Linked DNA regions of Homo sapiens: all the other regions are linked to region 1. Evidence: fine-mapped expression QTL. A gene starts in region 1. Each other region holds a variant in brackets. All regions are shown on one strand. Distances are between the middles of the regions.

Evidence for each region.
Region 2: its variant is fine-mapped to the expression of TNIK in skeletal muscle (GTEx, PIP 0.99).
Region 3: its variant is fine-mapped to the expression of TNIK in whole blood (TOPMed, PIP above 0.99).

What each region holds. Positions count from the first base shown.
Region 1 is chr3:171,455,498-171,463,681 of GRCh38, reverse strand. TNIK (TRAF2 and NCK interacting kinase) reads left to right here and starts at 3,277. Exons shown (of 33, transcript NM_015028.4): 1 at 3,277-3,675. The coding sequence starts at 3,619. It overlaps LOC124906303 (a long non-coding RNA gene), which reads left to right and starts at 5,511. Exons shown (of 2, transcript XR_007096168.1): 1 at 5,511-5,736. LOC102724479 (a long non-coding RNA gene) reads right to left here and starts at 4,464. Exons shown (of 3, transcript NR_189068.1): 1 at 4,291-4,464. RefSeq lists an enhancer at 2,076-2,576 and a silencer at 3,588-3,647.
Region 2 is chr3:171,170,821-171,179,004 of GRCh38, reverse strand. It overlaps TNIK (TRAF2 and NCK interacting kinase), which reads left to right. Exons shown (of 33, transcript NM_015028.4): 8 at 1,625-1,679; 9 at 3,675-3,753. Among named protein-coding and RNA genes, the nearest start is that of MIR569, 68 kb to the right of the region's middle. RefSeq lists a silencer at 4,861-4,930. The variant G/A (reference allele first, on the strand shown) is at 3,580.
Region 3 is chr3:171,058,467-171,066,650 of GRCh38, reverse strand. TNIK (TRAF2 and NCK interacting kinase) reads left to right here. Exons shown (of 33, transcript NM_015028.4): 31 at 1-75; 32 at 325-464; 33 at 2,687-8,184. The coding sequence ends at 2,770. Among named protein-coding and RNA genes, the nearest start is that of SLC2A2, 36 kb to the right of the region's middle. RefSeq lists an enhancer at 4,403-4,981. The variant AAATG/G (reference allele first, on the strand shown) is at 3,881.

The DNA.
Region 1 (8,184 bases):
GGGCTCCTTTCTCACAGATGGCCCCTTCTATGCATCTTCATGTGGTGGAAGGGCGAACAGGCTCCCTCAAGCTTCTTTTCTCAGGGCACTAATCCAGTTCATGAAGGATCTGCCCTCATGATCTAATCACCTCTTAAAGGTTCCACCTCTTAATACTATCACTATGGGGGTTAGGTTTCAACACATAAATTTTGGGAGACACAAACATTCAGATAGAACAAATGCTTAGAAAAATATCTGCAGCATAGTATTACTTATTATTCAAATTTTCTATTCATTTTTATAAAGAGGGTCTCCCTCTGTCGCCCAGGCTGGAGTGCAGTGGCTTATCTTGGCTTGCTGCAGCCTCAACCTCCCGGACTCAAGCAATTCTTCCACCTCAGCCACCCTAGTAGCTGGGATTGCAGGGGTGTACCACTATGCCCACCTAATTTTTGTATTTTTTGTAGAGATGGGGTTCTACCAAGTTGCCCAGGCGGGTCTCGAACTCCTGGACTCAAACTATCCTCCCAACCTGTCCTCCCAAAATGTTGGCATCACAGGTGTGAGCCACCACCGTGCCTGGCAGAAATCTTTAGCAAAAAAATTAGGTATCATTGTTGGAGTCTCCTTTTCCTCTTCCTCTTTTCTCATTATCCTGAAGTTAATCTGTATCCTTACTGCCTGTATCCATGCTTTATATAGTTTACTACATATTTATACATATGTAAACAGCATAGTGTATTATTCGGCAGGTTTTCAAACTGCACATAAATGGTGTCAGTTCTCTTAATCCTTCAGATTACATCAAGAAAAAAATCTCAAGTCTTGAATGTTTTTCCTGGTATTTGCTATTCTCTCTTTTAACAAACTAAGAGTAGGCCTTAGGCTAGAAGCCCAGAGCAGGAATTGATGGCTAGCTAGAATTTAATAATACTTCTTTATTTTCCATTATATTTATTTTAATGGTTTCCTCCCCCCTTTTTTTTTCAAAGCAAGTGTTGTTGGCTTTCCATTTAGAGTAGTGATTTATGTTTTCTTTTATATTAAGTGTAAGAAAAAAGTGTTGATTTAAAGAAAAATGTTAAGTAAGTGGTAAAATAGTACAGGCAATACAGAGACATAGGAAAAAATTAGGAAATTTATACTGGAATAGCTGAAATTTGATACACACTTGACCAAAAGGAAAAAGTTCAAGTTCCTCCTTCTCACCTTCCTTTACCAGTTGGAGGTCCCTTTGATACTGCAATCTCTCCTTTTATGGTATTTCCTGCAGCCCACACCCCTGCCTTCCCCTGGCTGTCTCATCAACTTCTCAGGCTCTTAGGAAGCCCTCCTCCATTTAGCACCTGGCATCATACTGCATCTATAACTTTCTCATCTAAAACTAAACTAAATCTGAATGCCAACTTGGCACCCTCGTGGCCCAAACAGCTCACTAATGTCAAAAAAGTTGATCTGTTTGTGATGTTTCAAATATAATCATGAGTATAAAACGAAGGCTTTCCATGGAAAAAATATTTAACTCATATTTCCTTATGTTTGCAGTTTTAAAAAAATAGTTGTTTATAGATCTTAATACTTGATCTTAAATTATCTTCTTTCAACCCTGAGACAATACATTAACCTGTTGTCTAGATGAACGGTAAAAAAACAGGAACACAGAAGAGAAAAAAACAAAGACAATGATGGGAAATAATCTGTTTTTTTTTTTTCATTTCGACGTGGTGGCTTACTGCACGTTACTTACTATGTCGAACCAGATGATTTTAGTAAAAAATGAGTTTAGTAATTTAGTATAACACGTTCAAATGTTTACATACAACGTTTACAGGCAAAAGCTACCAAACTGTTGTGGCCATTGAGATGTTGGAACAATTTTCAAGTTTCATGGTGCATGATCCACAATGCATATGAATACATACAATATCAGTAACAAAAACAGTACAATGTACACCAAAGGTTGTTTCAAAGTCCTCTAATGTCTGCAGTCATGATGAACTAACTGCACTGGCTTTCATTCATTCATTCATAAGACTTATTTTGAAGCTGATCTTCATACTGCATGATTAAGAAACCATCAGTGCAGTGGTCAGAATTACATTCTGCTGTTAACAGAGGAGCAAAGAATGCTTTCAAAGCTACTGCTGTATTTGGAAAAAAGTTCAGTTTTAGTGTTTTCTTTCTAGGTATTTTGCATGGCTAAGGCGGGAGAAGAAGGGCTGCGCGGGGATTGGGGGAAGCGACTTCCCACTCTTGATTACAGAAGGAGAATCATGTATACCACTGTAAAACATCCAACCTTTAAATGAGAAAGTGAGTGAAGTGAAATCGCTCTCACGTACACATCTTCCGCGTTACTTCTTATCCGCCAGCCAAACTTTCTCCATCAATCTGGGTAGGTCTGCCACGAAAACGCAGCCTGAAAGAAATGCTGAGTCCTGAGGCGGCGTGTGTTGCCTCACCCAGTGTTGGCTTTGGAGTTACCTGAAGCCTTCTAGCTACTGCACCCAGAGAGCAAGCTTCTCGTTTCAACTCGGTTGTTTCCGTGGGGAATTGCGGCACGAGCAAGTCCTGGGTGTGGCGATGCCAAGAGAGCGCTCAGATCTCCCATCTTTCCCGCTTCTGGCAAACCTTCCCAGCCCCGAATCGGCGAGTGACCAGCACCCGGGATCAGCCGTCCGGCATTCCGGGGACCGCGGGTGGACCCGACCCCGCCGCAGCTGCAAACTGCCGAAGCGCCCAGCTGGGTGCACTGTGCGTGTGCGCTTCTTCCCTACTCTTTCCGCGCCTGGAGGCGGATCCCCTTCCTTGCACACAAGTCCTTATATGCACCGGTTGCACCAGCCCGCGTTACTCCGGCCCCACAAATAATTAATGGGGGAGGGAGGGTGTCGCTTTTTTTTCCTCCGGCTTTTTCTCAGCGCGAGAGCATTTGAACCGAGGAGAAACCCCAAGACGCGACTGAAGGGCCATTTTGCTGCAGTGCACGAATTGGCCACACAAAAATAGAGCTTGGGTCCCTATGATAACAAGTCAAGGTTCAGGAACAGCCCCTTCGGGTTCGGCCCGAGGAGCCCGCAAAAGCCTGGGCGGAAAGGGTGCGCGCCCCTCCCCCCTCCACGCTGGTGCAGAGGGACCGGGTCAGGAAGCGCGGCCTCTCCCCAGTCCAAGACCACGCCTCCTCCGCCTCCCCACTCCCCCTTCACTCCTCCCAGGAAGCGGTGATAGACAGTTCTGCGTGGTTCTCCACCCCCACCCTCCCCCTGCTGAGTGGAGGAGTTGATGTGTCTCATTATAACAGCCAATGCAGCCGCCATCCACGCACAAGCAAAGAAGCATGTCCCATTTAAATACACCCACGCAGCCCCAGCGCCCTTAGCCGATCGGGGCGCTCAGCCCACACGCACCGCTGCTCGGGGCTTGGAGATCCGCGCAGGCTGGGCTCCCGGACCCGGCGGACCGACGCGCGGAGGATCGGGATCCGGCGCTGTGGGGCTGGGGTGGGCGGGGGAGGCTGGGCCCGGGGCCTCTGGCGCGACACCCGCATGAGGACGCGAGTGAAATAGACCAAGGTGGAATTTCCAAGGGAAAAGCTTCGGGGTGGTTTTGGTCCATTTCTCCAGCGAAGAAGTAGACATGGCGAGCGACTCCCCGGCTCGAAGCCTGGATGAAATAGATCTCTCGGCTCTGAGGGTGAGCAGGACGTTTTCTGGTTTCTTTCCAGTGGTTTGGGTTAGGGTGAATGGGCTCGGTGCGTGGACTGGGGGCTGGGGCTGGGGCAGGGGGACAGCAGCGGGAGAATGCGTCGGGGAGGGAACCTGGATTCCCGTTTTGATTCGGGGTTGCTGAGGTGCTCCTGGCTGAGCCCCTACGGCAGGGGCTGTGCGGTACGTGTCTTCCTCTGGCCGTGGCTTAGGCTCTCCCGAGGGCTCGTAGAGCTTATGCCAGTTTCATCTTATACCGGTGTAAGAGCATTAAAATGAAAGGCGTGTGTGCGTGTGTGTGTGTGTGTGTGTGTGTGTGTACACGCCCCGGGCAGTTGTCTGGTGCCAAGGCGCGAGACCCGACTGTCCCTTCTGCAAAAAGAATGCCAGCGTGAATAAAGGCACTGGCCCCTCACGTTTTCCAGCTACCTGCAAGATGACATTGTGAGGCTGGCTGTCCCCGCGAAGCCGAACCTGCCGCTCCAAGGGGGCAGTTATTGCTATGCTGGTCTTGTAGATGGCAACTGCCTCCCCCTCCCCCTTTTCTACCTCCCGCGCCCGGGCGCCCTCTCAGCGCTCCCTTAAATGCCAGTCTGCCACTCACCTTTATTTATGGCTTTAACTCAGCCCTGCCTGTTCTTTCTGACTTTGTGGCTGTAACGTTTCAGTTTTATGGCTGAACTTAAGCAGGTGAAAGGGATGTGTTTTCTGCTTTTCCTCAATCAGACCGGAACTCCCTGGAGTGTGTGCGAGTGTGTGTGTGTGTGTGTCTGTGTGTGTTTTCCCCGTGTCTGTGGCCAGTCCTTTGTAGAGCACCTCCCTCCCCCCAGCCCCACTGGTTTGCGTTTACCTTCACGTGAATTACCTCAGACGCCGTTTCATTGTATTGACTAAGACATCACTGATATAGAATCCATTTTGCTGTTGTTTTGAGATCAGAATACCAGGAATCCAAGTGCTGCTTCGACGCTTCCCCACCCCCAACTCCCGATCCCAACACACTCCTTTGGGGAAGGGGGCAGAGCTTTCTTGCCATTTTAATTAGATGCTGCCTGCCTGGAAGGGGGTGAGGGGTGGGGATGGTGGCAGCAGCGGGTGTCTGAGAAGGATTGGACACCAATTTAAGGACTGCTTCTTCCTCTCCCGAACCAAAAATAAAATTAAAAAGAAAGCGAGTGCATATACTTGATGTATGGAGGGTGGATGAGAAGGAATTCATGGTGGCTCTCTACAGGGAGACACCAGGATGGATGAAGCATGGAAGTTCACACGCCCTCCTGAGGAATACATTGTTAGATTGATGCTGAATCTTGGGGCCATTTACCTGGATTCCTAGTACTTCTGACATTGCCGCTATCTGCACTGATATATTAAAGTGCTACCTTTGTGATCAAAGTGGTACTTTCTCTTTGGTCTCCTTAATTAAACCTTTTCCTCCACATCTCTTTGAATAAGTCTTTCTCTCTTCGTCTTAATCTGTTGGGCTAAGAGATGAGGTTTCAGCAAGGCAAGTAAGGAGTTGAGAAGAAACAGAGATGCCGTTTGAAATGGGCTGTTCTGATAGTTGGGCAGCCAAAGCTCATTCATGCATTATTACAGGAAGCTGTCTATTTCCCTGGAGTGGAAATGCCACATCAAGAACCGGCTGCCCCCTGCGCAGCGGGGTGGGGTTGGTAACAGGGTGGGTGCATTGGCCAGGTCTGTGGCTTCCTGCTTTACCGACTGTGTGTGTTCATTTGCCCTACTTTCTACGCTGGGAGTTGCTGCCGGCGAGTTAATCAGGTGGATGGATGGCCCCGACTGGGGGTGGGGTGCTGCGAATCGGTCGGAGGTCGGGGTGGGGGGCGGGAAGTGGCAAAGGGGGAAGGGGTCTGAACAATGCGCAGGGCTTGCGGTGATTTCCCTGGGCCGGAATCTCGACCTTGCTCCTCTACTGGAAAGCAGTCTGATGTGATTTTAAGTTGGGCCGGGACTTGTCCCTTATGGGCTTTTTCCTCGGGAAGGTTTTCTGAGATACCAAGCACGGAGCCTGCAGGCAGGGGAGCAACCGGTGAGGGCCCACTGGGCGGACGACTGCGGTTCACACTTGGGATGTGCTTTCTTGTGATCTGTATTTTGAAAATATATCTTTGCACAATTCACTGAAATTGCTCTTTGTGGCCTGGGCTATCAGCTTAGGGCTCTGCTTCTGTTTTTCTGCCTGCTGGGAGGTGTGGAAACAGAGAGGGCAACAGCTAGCTTGGGGACCAGGAACTGCTGGCTAGAAGACTTAGATGCAGATGTGGAGACAGTTATATCCTGGAGGGCCAGGGTCTTTGACCAGTCTTGTGGGTGAGGTGTGTCTGCTGGAGTGGGTCCAAAGGCCACATAGGTAATCTCCACAAATCAGAGGGCAGATCATCTCCACCTTGCCACATTTGGAGAGGTGGCCTCATCTAGATGAGATGTCTCATTTGTTCCTAAGCCCTTGGTAAAGTCTGCCTGCTGAGCCCCTCCTGGGGAATGCCTGACCCCTGAAATGCAGCCAAGGTCAGTGGCTTCTGGGAGAATTTGCTGCAGACTTACCAGTCCCTCGCTGTTTCGGTGGCTCTTTAATGTACACAGTCAATGCTCTTTTTGTAAACCCTGGGCTCAAAGCATTAAAAGCAGATCCTGTCTAGAGAGGCCTTTATCCTTCTCACTTTGGGGGCTTATTGTTCTCAGCCAGTGATTCCAGACCGGACCCAGTCTAAATTTTCCCCAAATAGCAACAATGCATAATTTAAACCAGAGCAACCAATGACAGCACTGATCATTTAAATTATGCAAGATTTGCATGGTTTAAAAGTGAGTGAAGCAGGATCTTCTTTGGTTAGAAAATAGGTACTTTGAATCCAGTTTTAGCCCTGATTTTTAGAGCTCAGAGATAAACTAAATCTTGAGGGATGGGCTGGAATTGTTTTATAGATTCAGAGCTGGAAAGAGAATTGTAGAACACTCAGCCACTCCTTTCATTGAACACTTGGGAAACTGAAGCCCAGAGGCGTGAAGTAAGTTGTTCAAGGTCACACAGTAACAAGGGGAGGGGACAGCGAGGAGCGTGGTTTGAGGAAATAATCTAGATTTCCTGACTCCTCATTCAGTGCTCTTTTCTCTAAGTCACACTTTCTGTGGTGGAATCAGAAATCAATAATACATTTTCTGCCTGAGTACAAAAGAATAGCAGAAAGGAATAATTTCACCAGGGTCAGGGAATTTTATTTATTGAGAATGGCGAAACTACTTCATGCAAGTAAGCTTGTGATACATGAAACCATGGAGCTCTAGGCCACCTTTGGAATTCATCTTGTCCAGCCCTGGTTCAATGCCTACTCTGCAGGCAAACGACTGTCTGAAATCACCTAGGACACATGGTTGTCCTGCACAGGTAACCTCTCTGAGTAACCTGTGTCCATCAGAGCATGTCTCAAGGGGTCAGTATAAACATACATGTTATTCAGATGGCTCTGCATGTGAGGTTTATAGAGTTGTGTGTATGTTTTGTATTATCTATGTGGATACATATATTATGTGTAGTATTATGGATATAAACCGTATCCACGTGGGTGTATGAAAATGTGTGTATACATACATAGGCTACAGCAAACAATTTACTCATTCAAACCTGGGGCTTGAGTCATTCTTGCTTCAAGACATCTCAGTATTAAAAGAGATGAAAGTTGCCACCAGTGTGCTTTATTACATATGAGGCGAGCTCAGCCCAGAAAGCTTTTTGGAGATTAGCATATTTCTGGACCTAAGCACCTTGGCTGTCCTTAACTTGGCCCACAGGGTAAGGCATTCAAGGCCAGGAGTTGGCTGCTGCTGACCTCATACTCTCAGCTTCTGCCAGGACTCACATACACTTTTGTATTTGAACAAAATTAGATGATCTACACTTGTCTTTCCCCTTAGCCCTCATTCCCTAGCCATTCCTTTCTCCATTGAAACCCAGATTTAAGAATTGACCTCATCTGAAAGCCTTGCATACATCCCTTTGCTACACTTTTCATGCTCATGTTTTACTTGGTGTGTGATTTCCTTTCTGCTTCTTTACTAAACCGTGGACTTCTTGAGGGCAGAGGCTAGATCTTGTTCATCTTTGGAGCCATAGTCTCCATTAGTTGGATGAATGAGTACGTGAATGAATGCTTGAATGAATGGAGTGGAATGAACCCTGTCTCCCCAGTTCTATGTCCACCTCTTATTCACTCTGTGACTTTGGGTAGGACATTTAACCATAGTTAATAAGAATCATCACAACTGTTTGCCTTTCTCACATACTGGTTTCAAAATCAATAAAGTATTTAAGGCAATGCTTTAAAAACCATACAGCACTGTACAAATATGCTATCCCATGGTTAAGTAGAATTTAGTGGGAAAATTGATACCATCAACATTTGATTGCAATGATTTTATCTAATAGAAAATTATCTTTCCTGGGCACAGTGGCTCACACCTGTAATCCCAGCACTTCGGG
Region 2 (8,184 bases), 280 kb after region 1:
CCCCTCCACATTGTGCAGACCTCTGCCCAATTACTGAAGAGCCCTGAGTGTCATTTCACAGGATATTGAGAAACTTAGTTCTGGGGAGTGACTCAGCATGAAGGTTATGAATTTTATGAAGCTCTCTTCCAGTTACATCTCTTTTTCATGTGGCCTTGACATTTGTTTGATGGCAATAGCAAGGAAACTTACCTTTGATCACTCTAATCTGAGACAATTTTGAAAAATGTACAAAATGCATGAGGTATTTAAAATGAAATATCTATATTAGGATGTGGGCCATTGAACCAAATTTGATACTAGATTTTCTTACCAATCTGCTGTGAAACTGAGGCAGCAAGCCTCTTCTTGGTGTTTTCTAACCAGGTTTTCCCCATCTCTTGATATTCCCCCTCTCATGCAATATTTAGAGACTACTGAGCCACAGACAGAGTATGGGAGGAGAATATTGTTAGAGATGGAGATTGTACAGGTAGAAATGGAGGCATTAGCCTAGAAAATTCTGTTCAGAGAATAAAAGTCACTCTGAGCATAAGAAATAATATAAAGGTATACTGGCCTCTATTGTTACATACTAGTCTACTCACAAAATAGGCAATAATTGTTTATCTTTTCAACAAATACTTTGAGTACCTCCTACTGTGCCCAACTCTGATCTAAGCACAAGAGAGACATCAGTGAATGCCATCATCAAAAAGTCTCCCTGTCCTCATCTTATTAGGTAAAACCATATGAAATTGCTGTTTTTCTAGTTAAACCAATTGAATATAAATAACACCTACTATCTGATCCAGCCATTCCACTCTCAGGTATTTAACTAAAAGAAATAAAAGCATACACCCTCGGATTTGTACACCAATGTTTGCAGCACCTGTATCTGTAATAGCCCAAACTAGAAACAGTCCAAATGCAAAAACAGTGATATGTCCATAGAATGGAATACTACACAACAATAAAAAGGAGTGAGATACTGATATGTACTACAACATGGGTGGACTTCAGAAACACTATTCTACGTGAAACAGATCGAATACATAAGACCACATATGATGTGATTTCACTTATACAAAACTTTGGAAGTTACAAACTAATTCATAGTGACAGAAAGCAGATCATTGGTTGCCTAGGGACAGGAGAGTGGGGATGGGTTCAGGCAGGAAAGGAAGGAGGCAAATGAGATCTTTGGGGGATGATGGGTATGTTTACTGTTTTGACTGTGATGATGTGTTCACAGGAGGATCCCTACGTCATACCTTATCAAATGGTGTACTTTAGGTACAGTTTATTATATGACAATTATAGCTCAATGATGGTGTTATAAACAGTCAAATAGCAGCAATTTCCTATGGTTCAACCCACAGATAAGTTTCAGTAACGAATTAATTTAAAATTGTTTATATTCATTTTTCATACATTTATTGATAAGCTGCCATGTGCCAGACACCATGAGTGGTACTGTCAATGAAAAGTAAGACTGTTTCTGCTTTGAAGGTTAGTGGAAGAAATAGGTTTGTAAACAGAAAACTGAATGACTTTCACAGGAAGTTCTGAAGCAATTACCAGGTTTAACCAAGTTGTCCTTTGTTGACTGAATTTATGTGTGTGTCTGCCCCTTCTTTTTCAGAGTGACTTGTGGTCTTTGGGTATCACCGCCATTGAAATGGCAGAAGGTGCTCCCCGTAAGTACCCTCCTCTGGGGTGAAATCTGTTGCTGGTCTGCTCTGCAGGTACTGAAGTTTCCTTGCCAGGAGCTGCAGTTGCTTTACTTCCACTACACCGAGCCCTGCATGGATTCAAGCTGGCATATTTAGAAAGCAGAGTCATCTTAAATCAACCAGGAATCCATTCATTTCAGAGCAGTGGGAGAATCCTGTTTTTATTAGAAAAAAAAAAAAGGAAGAAAAAGAAAGCATACTTTGGGGAGTCTTGTTTGTTTTACAGATTCTGTACATCATTTATTCTTGGACTACTCCTCACCTGACATAAAACTGTGACCAACTCACAAGACTATAAACTCCAATGTATGAAAATCCAAAATTAATTTTCAGTGCACAGGTTATACAAAGACTCCACTCAATGGCTATCACTCCTCTTAAAATACTGATGTTTAAAATTTTAGATTTCCCTGCTATTTGAGACAGAGTGGCTAGGGCTCCAGCAGTCTTGAGAATCTCAGTTCCTTGAGATTTGGAGTATTGGCCCCAGCAGAGAGTCTCTGTCATGAGACTGTGCCTCACAGACTTCCATATAGGAAGTGTAACTGATTGTCAGCCCCAGCTGCTGCAATGGCAGCAGGCCGCACCTTTCAAGGGCCACTCCCCGCCAGTGACCTAGCACAGTGGGGATACTAAGGCAGGCCCTTTCCTGGAGGACACAAGATTCCTTTGTAGGCAACTTTCACCCAAGTAATCCCCTATGACTTTACAAGACCTGCAGGACAGGCTGGGACCCTTCCACCTACCTTTTCTCCCTCTCTCCTTCACTCAGGGTCAGACTTGCATAGCAATCTGATGACTTCCCATACTGCCTGGCTCCTTCCCTGTTTCCATTCACATAGTAATTTACCCAGTAATATCCTTGGTGTCTGCATCTCAAAGGACTAGGACAAAAATAGGCCCTTTATTTGCACGACAGGTCATTATACTTATGACTTTTACCTTCGGGTTGTCATCGTTTTCTTACTTCCCAGTCTAGAATTGGTAGAACTCATCTGTAGCATGATTGATTTGGAGTGCTGGTTGACAAAATTGCCCTCATTCACAATGCTAATAGGCATGTGTGAATCAGAAAAATAATATATTGCAGTCTTAAACCATATTATCATTCTTGATGAGTGGTAGACAGGGCTAAAAATAAACTTCTGCCCACAGAATCCTTTGGCTTTTAGGGAGCATATATTCTTATTCTAGCTACAAAGTAGAAATTCTCCCAGATGTTTGAAAAGTAAACTAATAAAATATTTTATTAAAATAAGAACATATGAGTGCTTTCACTATAAACGATAATGTCATGTTTACAAGATGAGATCTTTTTATAACTTTGTTTTTCTGCCAGACTCTGTGTGACTTAATCCTCTGGGCTTCCTGGGGCCAGTGAATTTAAAAACAAAATGAAACAAAACCCGTTACGAAACCTGAAAAGCCATTCGGGATATCTGGAAACAGAGAAAATGGGGCTCTGGGGCTGGTGTTTTGGACTCCAAAAATCTGTGTAGATAACAATTGCATTTGGATGAGCTGTCGACGTGTAAGAAATAGACGGGATAATGAAATGCCTTTTATTTATGGCTTAGGCTTTTACTAATTAAAAATAGCTTACCATCTCCATTGTAGTTGTCATCTGATGGTATTTACTTTAAATGTCAGGTGGTCATTCACAGCAAGGATGGCTGGTTGTTGACCCTTTAACTTAGTTTCCTTAAATATGAAGTAAACATGTATTCACTAGAAATGTTAGCAGTAGCTATGTGAACCATGTTGTATTTTATGAGACTCCTGTAAGTGGATATTGGATCTTTCAAATGCTCAGAAGCATTTGGATATTCTGACTTTGTGCTCACTGGTGGTGTGTAAACTGAGT[G/A]GGTCATTGGGCAGCCATTATCTGCACAGCCAAGACGGGCTTGGCCTGGGTTTGGCCTCCTAACTGTAGCTGGCCCTTGTTTTGGTCTCTTGCAGCTCTCTGTGACATGCACCCCATGAGAGCTCTCTTCCTCATCCCCCGGAACCCAGCGCCTCGGCTGAAGTCTAAGAAGTGGTGAGTTTGGTCTTCGATGTTTCGCAGATCTAAGGGTGAGGTTTTCTTGTGATTCTATTTTGGATTAGCTCTAATCCCTAGGTCCTGCTGATAGAATGAGACTAACATGTATGATGACTTGGTGAATTACTTTCCATATGCTGTCATTCATCTTAAAGTATATATTGAGTATCTACTGTTTGTACAGCAGGTCTTTATTCCCCCACCTTTAAGGTAAGAAATTATTAGCCAAAATGGGTAAGTGAAGCCAAGTAATAACATGAAAGCTCTTTGATCTATAACTCCAAGTCATATCTTTCCTGGCAGCACAGAACAGCTTATCAGAGAGGGTGATAGTTTAGAGAGTCAGCCTGTTAGATTGGCTGATTTCTCTTCTATTCCTTACAACAATCATTCCCTAAGTGCATATACATACCAGGTAATGTTTGAGATTATTTCTCTGGCTCGTGTATGAGCATTTGCAGTTTTTTTGTTTTTACTACTGTTTTCACATATGGCAGGTGATACTGGCTTCTTATTTGGGGCAGCGATTTAACTTTTCCTTTTGATAAACTTACATAAAACAGTGGCTTAATTTAAAGGAAACTACTACATGAATACTAGTATGAGTGGTGTGAGGGTACGGCAAAAATTATGTTGATAGGATATGACTGACTGACATTTGGGAAACAGTTCTACAGGTTAAGCCAGATGTTGGATGTTTGACTTTTTGGGGATAATTATATAGTTGGGATCTTCCTATCTTATTATTCCATAACCAAAATTCATTGCTTCCTCCTTTCTTCCTATGGAAATGGTGTATCCTCCCTGATACATTCTTGAATCTCGGATTACTCATGGTCTGAGGTCAATTCCTGCACTATTTGTGACCTCCTATCCTTTTTCTAGAGATAAGTCCTGGGCAGTGAGACCATGAGGGACAGGATCCTTCTGCCCCTTTCCATAGCCCTTCATGATCAGGCGCTTGACTGGGGTCCTCATGTTTCCCACCCACCCACACACAGGCTCACCTCTACCATACAGGGGGCAGCCTTAATTACCACCAGTCATCTACTAATGAGAGCCACCCTGGTGGAACAGAGGAAAGGGCACACTGCACAGAAAGAGGGAAGGAAACAGCCAGAAAAGAGATGGCAGCCTCAGAATTGCCGGGCCCTGCGAGGGGAGTGAGAGTTGCTATTGGTAACAAGGAGGCAGAGCGTTCCCTGCTCCTCCTTCCTCTGCAGAGGGTCATTGTGGTGCAAGACAACCCTTCTCTCCCCAGCAACAGCCCTCCCATTGGGTGTCATACATCATGTGATCGGCAAAGCACCCCAACACCCTGCTTCCTCTCTTCTCCCTGGATCAGACTCCCGGGGAGAGGGACTGGCGCAGTTCTCTTCCCTGGAAGTGACAGTGACACTACAAAGCCCTCTGCTAGGTTCCTGCTTGATATCTGAGCTGAGTCTGGTGTATACAGTGGGCTTTACTTACCCTGTTCCCTGCCCTATCTTCTCCTTGTCTCCCTTTACTGCTGCAGGACACGTATTCTGAGCTTTTCCACAGAGGAGGACAAACTGGCCCTCCACAAATGTATTTGGCTGTCACACTATGGTCATATACCCTGTTTTAAAAATATGTGTATTAATTGGCAACACTTAAAAATCTGTCAATTGAGCATTACATTTAGATTTCTGGCCTTTTTCTTGCAAAGATGCAGTGAACTGCCTGCAAAGATGCTAGCTGCTGCTCCCATTTAGGACAAGTGATTGTCCTTCTCCTCCAGCTGCCACCTCCCCCCAACTCAGAAGCTGGTGTCAGTTGGTTAGTATACATCTCCTGTTTTCTTTTCTTTTCTTTTCTTTTTTTTTTTTTTTGAGACGGAGTCTCGCTCTGTCGCCCAGGCTGGAGTGCAGTGGCACGATCTCGGCTCACTGCAAGCTCTGCCTCCCGGGTTCACGCCATTCTCCTGCCTCAGTCTCCTGAGTAGCTAGGACTACAGGCGCCCGCCACCATGCCCTGCTAATTTTTTGTATTTTTTTTTTTTTTTTTAGTAGAGACAGGGTTTCACCGTGTTGGCCAGGATGGTCTTGATCTCCTGACCTCATGATCCGCCCGCCTCGGCCTCCCAAAGTGCTGGGATTACAGGCGTGAGCCACCGCGCCTGGCCACATCTCCTGTTTTCATCTTAACCATGGTCTACACCACCCCTTTTTGTGACCTACCTGACCCCACAGAAAAGTGAGTGAACAGCCCTTGCCCTACAGTGTCAGTTTTCACCGACTGAGACCCAAAAAAGATCAACGGTGTGCTGACCTTGTTTGAGAAATACAAACTTTTAGGACAATGCAGTCTGATTTTTCGGCTTCAAACCTTTGACAACAACTAATTTTAATAATGCTGGAGGGAGCAGGAGAAGTTTGGAAACACTGAGAAGTCCAGGCCAATTTCATCTCATCCTGCCACCTTGCACACCTTTCCCTGATGTGTAAGGAAAACTGAGTAGGAAAGCTATGGGAACAAGTCCCATATTGTCAGACAGGGAAAGGAAAAGTAACCTGATTGCTAGAGAGAGACCGGGGAAACAAAAGCCCTGATAATGTGCCATTTCACACTTCGATCCCAGCCTTTGTAGAGGTGGTGGTGCAGCCTCCAGGCACATGATACTTGACAGCAGACATGGCTCCCATTTCTCTGCAATACAATTCCACCAGTTTTTAAGTGAAAATATTTAAACACTTCAGAGTATTTTATCTTGAAAGCGCAGGTCCAAAGTGATTTGAAGTAAGTTAGGGTTTACTTTAATAGACTCTAGTGTTTGAGAGGAAATGAAACATTTTGTTTATGTTTTTTATTTTAATTATTTAAGAGGAAAAGACTCCCTCCCCCGACCAAGAGACAAAATTCCAAAACATTCTTTTATTTCCAGCTATTCTCTACCTAAATGAGTTACCGGGTTAAATGCCTTGTTCTCAGTGTATATATCAACACCTGACCAAAGGGGGCGCCATTGTTGAGACAGGGCCATGAACTCTTCTCATGGCAAACATTCAATAAAGCATCATTTTCAACATGACTGAGTCTACAACATACAAGGCATAAACTGGTCTCTTAGTGTGAACTTTTTTTTTGTTTTTTAACTTGTACCTTCAAGATTTGAGAAATAAAGGCAGTGGCACTGCTCTTTCCACTGTCATCGTGGAGGGAAAGGAGACCACCACCACTCACAGGAGCCCAGTTCTTCCTTCCCTATTGGTATGATGAGGAGAGGCCTTTGTGGTATGGGATGATGAAGTTAGGGCACCACTGAATGTTCAGGCAGCTCAGCCATTTAATAATAAGTTGTCTGGGAGGGTTGTAACCTTTGTGGAATCAGAGGAAACCAAAGATACTCTCACCCTCTACCTCCATATCAGCACCAGCAAGTGAAAAGCAAGACTGGGATACCCATTCTCTCTTCCTGTCTCTTGTGCGTGCGTAGATTCCACTCGCAGGGGTAAACCATCTCCTTCAAAAGATTTTCTCCTACCTTCTCTTGCCACCCTGCTCATCCACACTCACCTGCCCTCGCAAGTATACTCAGTGTCACTGCTTCCCTCCAGGACTTTCTGGAGAAGGATAGGAATGGCTCCATTAAGTATAAGACAGTGAATCTTTCATGTGCCCTTTAAATTTGAAGAGCCCACACAGGCAAAGCAGCACTCAGTTGAGGTCATTAGAAAAATCATAACTGCTTATATGTACAAGCTCCACTGGTCCAAGCCACTCATGCTTCAGATGCAGGTGTGCAGGCCCAGTGAGGCTAAGTGGTGTATTTGCACGAGTTCTAGCCTCCTTACTGGGAGAACCAGCCTGGACCCAGCCTCCTGCTTTTGCTCCAAGGCTAAAAATCACCCCCGTTATTTTATGAGGCACCAGTTCTGATTCTTGGTGGGTTGTCAGACTTTTGAGATAGGACAAAGTTCGTGTGTGTGTATCAGAAATTCCTTCTACTAGACTGAATATTCTAGTAGTAATGTGACTTTGAACTTTGGACTTTATTAAAATCCAGCTAAAAACTATTACACAGACTTTAAAAATTAACCTGTTTGTGCAGGCTTCTTGGAGATAACAGCCCAGTTGACTCCTCCTGCTAAGCTATTTAACCCATACGTGAAATAATTCCCTTAAAGAACTCTATGTTTACTTAGTTCAACAGAAATGAGGATTTCTTTTTTTTTAGAGACAGAGTCTCATTCTGTCACCCAGGCTAGTGTACAGTGGTGCAATCATAGCTCACTGCAGCCTCAAACTCCTGGGCTCAAATGATCCTCCCACCTCAGCCTCCCCAGTGGCTAGAACTACAGGTGCATGCCACCATGCTCAGCTACTTTTTTCTATTGTTTATAAAGAGACCGTCTTGCTATATTGCCCAGGCTGGTCTCGAACTCCTGGCCTCAAGCAATCCATCCA
Region 3 (8,184 bases), 400 kb after region 1:
GGGTGTATGTAAACACCTATGGCCGGATAACTAAGGATGTGGTGCTCCAATGGGGAGAAATGCCCACGTCTGTGGGTAGGTTAACCATTCCTTATCTCCTTCAGCAGTTACACCCCCCAAATGAAACGAAAATCAAGAAATGTGAAACAACCATTTGATTCCACAAAAAAAAAAAAAAAAAAATCTGTGAATAACTCTTGTAAGACTTGCTTTGTCCATTTATCTCAAGTCGTTTGTCATTTTTGTGGTTAAGATGTGAACAGATGCTGTGAGTTATTGCCCATCTAATGTTTTTAATGCAGTTTTGGAAATTCCTTTTGACAGCCTACATTCATTCCAATCAGATAATGGGCTGGGGCGAGAAAGCTATTGAGATCCGGTCAGTGGAAACAGGACATTTGGATGGAGTATTTATGCATAAGCGAGCTCAAAGGTTAAAGTTTCTATGTGAAAGAAATGATAAGGTAAATCCGTTTCAACATTTGCATTAGTGTTTGCATTTTAAGAGACCACCAGGTACCTGTGAAACCTTCATTTTCCTTTATACTGATTTGAATCACATCTGTGTTAAACAATCAATATTATCTTGAAATGGCATTATTTGGTTTGATCCATGTGAGCACTCAATATATTATTCACATGTCAAAAACTACATAAAAACATTTAGAAATTTCTTGTAAACCTCTTAGAAACCTTTGTGGCCTAAAGGCCTTTTGATGACTCAGCAGACACCCCAAATTCTCCTAAGCACTTAGAGCAGTTGGCCCATCATTAATCATCTCACAGTGGGTCAACTTTATACTTCCACTTTTAGACTTTTCACAAAGTCACTTTCAAGACCTAACCAATCACCTTATATTCACCTTTAAATCCAAAACATTTGACGTTTAGAAATATAAGCTTTTTAAAAATGTCACCCATTCCTTAAGGAATGCACAATCACAAACTCAACTAGTGCCATGTCTTGTGTCATTCCAGCCATGTTTCTTCTGAAATGTCATAGGTGAACTGTTTTCCAGTGAAATTGGCTGTGTCCGTCTGGCATGATCAGTGACCTCAGAGGGGTATTCTGCAGCAGTACTGCTTCTCCCTTACCCTCCCTGTAGAGTAACCCCGAGGTTTTAGTAGCTAAGCCATACTGCATTTGTGAATTCATCCTTTGTGGCTGTGGCCAACATAGAAATGCTGTCCCCAAAGCCACAGACATAAACGCCTATAGAAAAACAGTATGATGGGTTGAATTTTTGTATATCCCTTTGTCCACCCCAGTTCCCCAAAGGTCAGGTTGGTCTTAGTCCAAACCTGGTGATGTGGGCCTAAACTATATTCAACCCTGGCCCACTACTCTGACCTGATGTGGTCTGGGTGGACAGTAGCTGCAGGTGGCAAAGATGGTTCCAGCCATTTAGATTTCCCAGAAAACAAACATAACCTAGTAAAACTCCAGCTCCCACCCAGTCTCTAAGAATCAAAAAACCAGGAGTGATCTGGGTATGGATACCCACATTCCGATTGAAAACCTACCCCAGCAGGGCTGTTCCAAGCCATGCCACACCCTTAGGAGTAGGCTGGGGCCACACCAGTTGTCTGCAACCCAAGGTTTACAGCCAGGGGCACACAACTTGGAGGGAAGAGCAGCCCTTTCTTTTCTTCATTGTGGTTTTCCATAGGCCCTCTCTGTCCTTCTCCGTTTTGATTCATTGACCCTAAGAGTAGCATTACTTTCATATGCAGCATTAGGTGAATGTCAAGCATTTCCAGAGACCTCCCTAAGAAGTTGTTGTTAGCATTCTTCTGAAGAAGCTGTAGAAATGAAGTAGCAGAGACTTTAGACTAGTGACAAAAGCAACTACCTAACAAAAGTTAGGTATTGACTGACTGAAGGGCTAGGCCATAGCCCAAAATATTACTTTCCTGGGGCAGTGGTTCTTTAACATTAAACATTCAGCTCAAGCAAGCAGTAACCCAAATTTTTCTCACGTTTGTCAGTTGTTTGATAAAATGACTTAACAGACTCAGACCTAATGGACTGTGGTTCTCCTCATTAATGCTATGATCTCATTTGCCCTGGGATATGCCACCATCAGCAGAGAAACCATGCGTTAACTCTTGAAATGCCAAAATGAGTAGGCATTAAATACCTTGCCCTATCTGACCACACTATTTAATGTTTTTATCTTAAATTTAAAAAACTGAAATCTGAAACTGTATGATAGTCAGTAGGCCTAAAACTCCCCCTTGACTTTGAGAATTTGAAGGGATTCCCTTCCATCCTGAAGTCTACTTTCTTGTCATTTAAGGGTGAGAGAAGGGAAGCTTCTGTGCCTTTCTAGAAATTAACAAAGAACCTGTTGGGTCCTAGACCAGAAATCCAGCACGTTATCCTAGCATGAAACTCCCTTTTAAAAAGTGAACACCCAAAGAGATGTTACAAATGAAGATATAGCCCCTTCAGCATCTCTGGAGACCAATACCACAATAAGGAATAATAACAACCTAGGAATAAAGGCAGGAGTTTTTACATAGGATGCACGATATCCAAAGGGACTTTATAAACACAAGCCATTGAGTCTTAAGACCTGACACATGGCAAGGATAGGACATGTGAGAGAAAATGGATGGACGGTTGAAGAAAAGAGGGGAAAAGACCATGCAGTTGAACTAACTTCTTTTTAATTTCAAACAGGTATTTTTTGCATCCGTGCGATCTGGAGGAAGTAGCCAAGTGTTTTTCATGACCCTCAACAGAAATTCCATGATGAACTGGTAACAGAAGAGCACTTGGCACTTATCTTCATGGCGTTATTTCTAATTTAAAAGAACATAACTCATGTGGACTTATGCCAGTCTAGAGGCAGAATCAGAAGGCTTGGTTGAACATATCGCTTTCCCTTTTTCCTCTCCCTCCGCCCCTCCCAGTACAGTCCATCTTTCAATGTTGCAGCCTGGTTGAGAAGGAGAGAAAAAGGTGGCAGGAATTTCCAGGAGATCCCCAAGAATGCTGCCTTGTCTGTGGACAAAGATGGACCATGTGCCCTTCGGAATTAGGGATAGAAACAAATATTGTGTGCTCTTAACGATTAAGCTGTGTTATGGTGGGTTTTCAGGTTTTTACCTTTTTTCTTTACCCCTTTACTCTGCAAGAATGGGGAAAGAATGCATACTGCGAAAATGAGTCTTTTAAATTCTGTCTGCCTACTAGTTTTAAGTATATGGTATGTTGTAAAATTTCCAATGATGAGAGACAGCACAATAAATGTACCTTATCTCCTTAGGCTGAAGGCCATAACTACATAGTGGAGTAATTTAAGAACTCTCTTGCCTTCACCAACCCAAAAGGTTGCTTTTTGATAGCAACTGGCTAATGAATTTTTAAAAAGAGAAGAAAAATACTAGTTTTCCCCTCTTTTGGGAAATAGATTTTAAATGGCTAAACTACTAGCCTTAAAACTACTAGTCTAATAAAATCAACTACCACTTTTGTGAATCTGACAGGCCACATTTTTATATGGCCCTTTACAGAATGGAGTGTGTTGAACAGGATACTAACGCCATTGAGTTGAGCTGGCCTAGCGATGGAGGGACACTCTAACACAACTTTCCCTCAGCTATTATGCAACAGATCAGGGAAAAAGATGGGATGACAGATGGGGTCAGACAGAAAGAGCTTCTGGGAAACAAGCTTACATAGTCTTTTTTAAAATGCACAAAGCCTCCCAGCTAAGAGGTCACTTGGTTTGGGCTTCATTAGGACTGAGACTTTGTTGAGTTCTTTCTGGGACTTGGAGAGTGGATGATATTCAGGCTCTGAACATTCCCAGCGCTCTCCCGAGGGTGCCACTTTCTCAAGATGAAAACTGTGACTGAAAAAATTAATAAT[AAATG/G]TTTCTGAGCTGCCTGTGTTCTCCCTGTGTGGGTGAGAGAAGGGACTAGACTCCTAAGCCTGCCTCAGATACAAGAGGCATCATTGGCTCCAATTTTAGAGAACTTGAAAGCAAGGCTTTGGACAAAATTTTGAGACCCTAATCACTTTACCTTCCTCCAAATTACCCAACATACGGTAAACAACATTTGTGCAGAAGTATGTATGTATTTAGTTCAGGTTGACTTGTGTCCTTATAAACTCTTACTCAAATGATTTGAACTTTTATGCGACTGGGATTTTTTTTTTCCAAAGCTACAAGCATGGCCGCCTGTGGTATCGAGGTGTTGCAAACAATATCTGTGTTGCGCTTCCTGTTTTAACCTACCTCGTTTTGTTTGTTTTTGTTTCACTGTTCATCACAGCAGTGTTATCTCCAGGAGACATATAGAGAGCTCAACCGGCAATCTCAGGTGCATTTAACATTTTTAAAACGAAACAGTAGTTGACCAAATTTTTCTTCTTAAAAAATTGGAAGTGGGGGGAATCCAATGACAAAAACTAATGTGGCTTGTTTCTGGAGAAAATAATTACTGTAAATGGAACAACAACAACAAAAAAAACTACGATCTTACTGACTTTGCCTAAATACACAAGCAGCTGATGTACTATTAATGAGAACGAAATACACATTAGGAAAATGGAGCCATTTCAATCTAGTGGTTTGGGCAAGATGGGGAAGAGAAGGGGAAACATTCTAGTTTCTGGATTACATTATTATGCCCCTCCTGAAAAGGTGGTTGTCATTTGCATTTATTTAAAGCAGGTAATATGCAGGAATGTAACTGAGGATTATCTTCAGGCAATCAGCAAGATATCCTCCTCATGGTCCCTTTAGCTCTCAAAAGCAATGAAATCCTCCTGTTCTCATTTTTACTGCTGTGGTTGTGCTGCTGAACAATACTATCTTCTCAAATTCCATGCCACAAATTCAGCAATAACTTTTTGGATTGAATTTAACAACTACTGTAATTGGATGCTGATGTGGACAAAATATATTGATTTCGATTTCACTCCCGAATGTGATTGCCACCAGCTCTTTATATTGCTGCTGTGGTATTTTAAACCAGAAGCTTCTTTAAATTATGTTGCAAACTGATCTTTGTTTTTATGTTTTGTTTTGTTTTTATTTCTAAGTGATAAGTTTGAAACACACAGCTTTAAATGATTTTTTTATTGTGGGATTTTGGGTACAGTTAAGAAATAAAAGGGAATCATTGTGTTTAAACATAAGGTAGTTTGTGAATGTATTTTTTAAAATCTAGAGTCATTGAAACAAATCATAAGAAAACAATATTAATGCAGTCTTGTTTACAGTATGTACAGTGACATAACATAGAACATGAGCTTTTCTGGTGCCAACAACAATAAAACACACGTTAAACATCAAGCCATGCCTTTTATATTTTTGTACTAATATTTTACACTGAGTACAAGGCAAATCCAAATTTAAATGGGCCCCCCAGAAATCTGTGCTCTTTAAAAGACAGATATTTAAAGAATTCACTGAAGCTTTTATCTTCAAAAATAAATTTTCCTCCAGCAAGACAGACCCCAGCCCTGACATAAGGAGGCCTAGAACATGCAGAATACGTCAGAATGGTGTCCTTGTGGCTCATCCAAACTTTCTGAATTGCCTTAATTCTTTTTGGGGGTAGGGGAGGAACGGTTGCTTTTCATCCATTTTTATAGCATCTCAACAAAAAAAATCTTCAGTTCTGATCTTTTTATAGGTGATTTTGTCTCTAGAAATTGGCTCATTTTATTTTTATTTTCCTACAAAGAGAAACTGGAGAAACTGAGCCCTCCCCTCAGAGTAAGTTTCACTAGATCTGCCAGTTCTTACTGCTCTAAATTAATAATCATCCAGTAAAATCTACTGAGCCTGCCCACACCATAGTCTGGGTCTGGGGTCTGGCAGGTGACCATCATTCCTGGGTGCCAGTCAAAGATACTGTAGCATGGATTCCTGCATCCAGTGGTGGTAGGAATGGATGACCAGTGAAGTTCCTTCAAATAATGAGGCTCTTCCCCCTGCCAGTTCCAGCCAGACCACTGTCATAACACACAATGCAAATGAAGACAGCCTTCACTAAGTTCCACATAAAATTGAACAGCTCTATTTTAGATAGATCTCATTATTTTTCTTGGAGACTTCTAAACAATCCTTCAAGAAGACCTAGAACTATTATTTTTATTAAACAGGGTATATTAAGTTATGGGTGAAATCTCACAAGGTCACCTGGACAGGGGCTCCATTTTTCTAACACTTTGACATTGTTTTCTAGGGTGCACTCCTAATATACTTTGCATCAAGTACATGTTTTTTAAAAACACCTTAGTTCCTGGTTGTCAAAACCTACTAACAATTTTTGTCTGTTCTTGTGACTCATTGGTAATTGGTGTCTCTGGTCCCTCCTGTCCAGTAGATTATTAGAAAGATGTGAAATTCCAGCCAGAACCATTTTGGTTTTATCCACTGCCAGGAAAGGAAGGGGCTAAAGTCTCACATTCCACGAAGCTTTTAAAAAAATGCTTTCCCTACTACTATGTGTACCAGTTCCCGTCACTGTATTCTTGAAACGTGGAAGAGCTCTTTGTGTTAACAGTGTGTGCTGTCTTTGAAAGTCTGCTTGAACAGGCATCACTTGCATTTGTGCTGATTGCTTTAAGATGTAAGATGTGCTACATTATTTTTAAGAAAAAAAATAGTTATTGATAAAACTTTTAATTTTAACCTACTGCAGGAAAACATGAGAAAATCCACAGCATGCTGATAACAATTCTGAATGATGCTACTATGCTCTTTATATTCCAGAATCACCACTGGTACCATGTTCTGATCATTTCAACAGTCTCTAACTTGTTAGTTACCTTTTAGTTCATTCTTCAAAATTTAAATCTAACCAAATCAAGCAAAACATAACCAACCAACCAAAAACTGACCTCCCCTGAGACTACATAGTTGTAACATAAATCTAAAATCCAAAAGTCTAAATTTGATTTAATTTACCTGCTAATATTTCTCATAAATGCCACTATATCTCCTTGGTCACTATATATCAGGAACCCTAAAGTAAGCTGTCCTTTCATGGATCTTAAATAAATTGGGTGTAAAATTGATCACTTTTCAGGAGTCCCAGCAAAGAAGAAAACCTCTTGAGAATTTGCAAGTTCAAAACTGACAATTTGTATATTCCTACCAAACATTTTCTAGGTTGTTTTTATTTCTACACCATTATTCTGGGAATTCTTCCATTGATAACTAGAATATTCAACAGTTTGCTTAGCATTAAACAGTGTGAGATCATAACCCTGTGCTTTGGACTTTATTCTTCTAGACCTGCCATTCCAGGAAGTGCCAGAATATACCAAAATAAAAATCCCCATAAAAGCATTTTTAAACAAAAATCCCTGGGTAATGTTTGAGTTATTTTAAATCTAGATCAAAATCTTGGATTCTTCTGAGTCCATGATGACAAATGTTTGGATGAAAAGTAGAAAATACAGTTAAAAATAAAAATGTCCTAAAGTTTACAGATTTTTGAGTTTGTGTACATATCTTCAAACTCACTCCTTGCATGATAGGGTTTGGTTTTAATGGTTTATTTTTATCAGCACCAAGTTGCATTGCACTATTGAGGCTGAGCAAATGCTGGTGGAAAGGTGAGTTTTCATTTCTGGCAATGGATCATTATTTGTACACTGTAAATATCATGCCCAGCTACCCCTTTCCCTTATCTCTTCCCCTGGGATAAATGTTAAGGAATAGTAATACTTATTATGGTATGTTTAAGAAACCTTGGACATTACCCTGAATCAAAACTTCAAATGTTAGGTGGCAGCAGGAAACAAAAGATTACAGCTTGAATGAAATTTTAAAATTGAATGTTGTAAAACTATTTTTGAACGTTTTAGCTGCCTTATTTATGTTAATATAACTGTAGAGAGATGCCAAATGTATAATATCAGAAGGGAAAACTACGATTTTGCTGTGCCTACAATTGTTTACATTTTTTAAATCTCCAGTTTTCAAAAGTATTTTAAATTGTCAAACATTTGCTAAAACTGGATTATAACCTCACCTGAGAATGAGAGAAGAAAATCTTCCTGGCATATTTTCCAGTCTGAAACTTTTGGTTACTTTCAGGTATTTTTTTTCTTGCATACAAAAATCATTGAGAAAGTACTTTCTACAGTTATTCTAAGCAGTCATTAAAAATGCTTTGATAGGTTTCCCCACATGGTAACTACCATGTCCT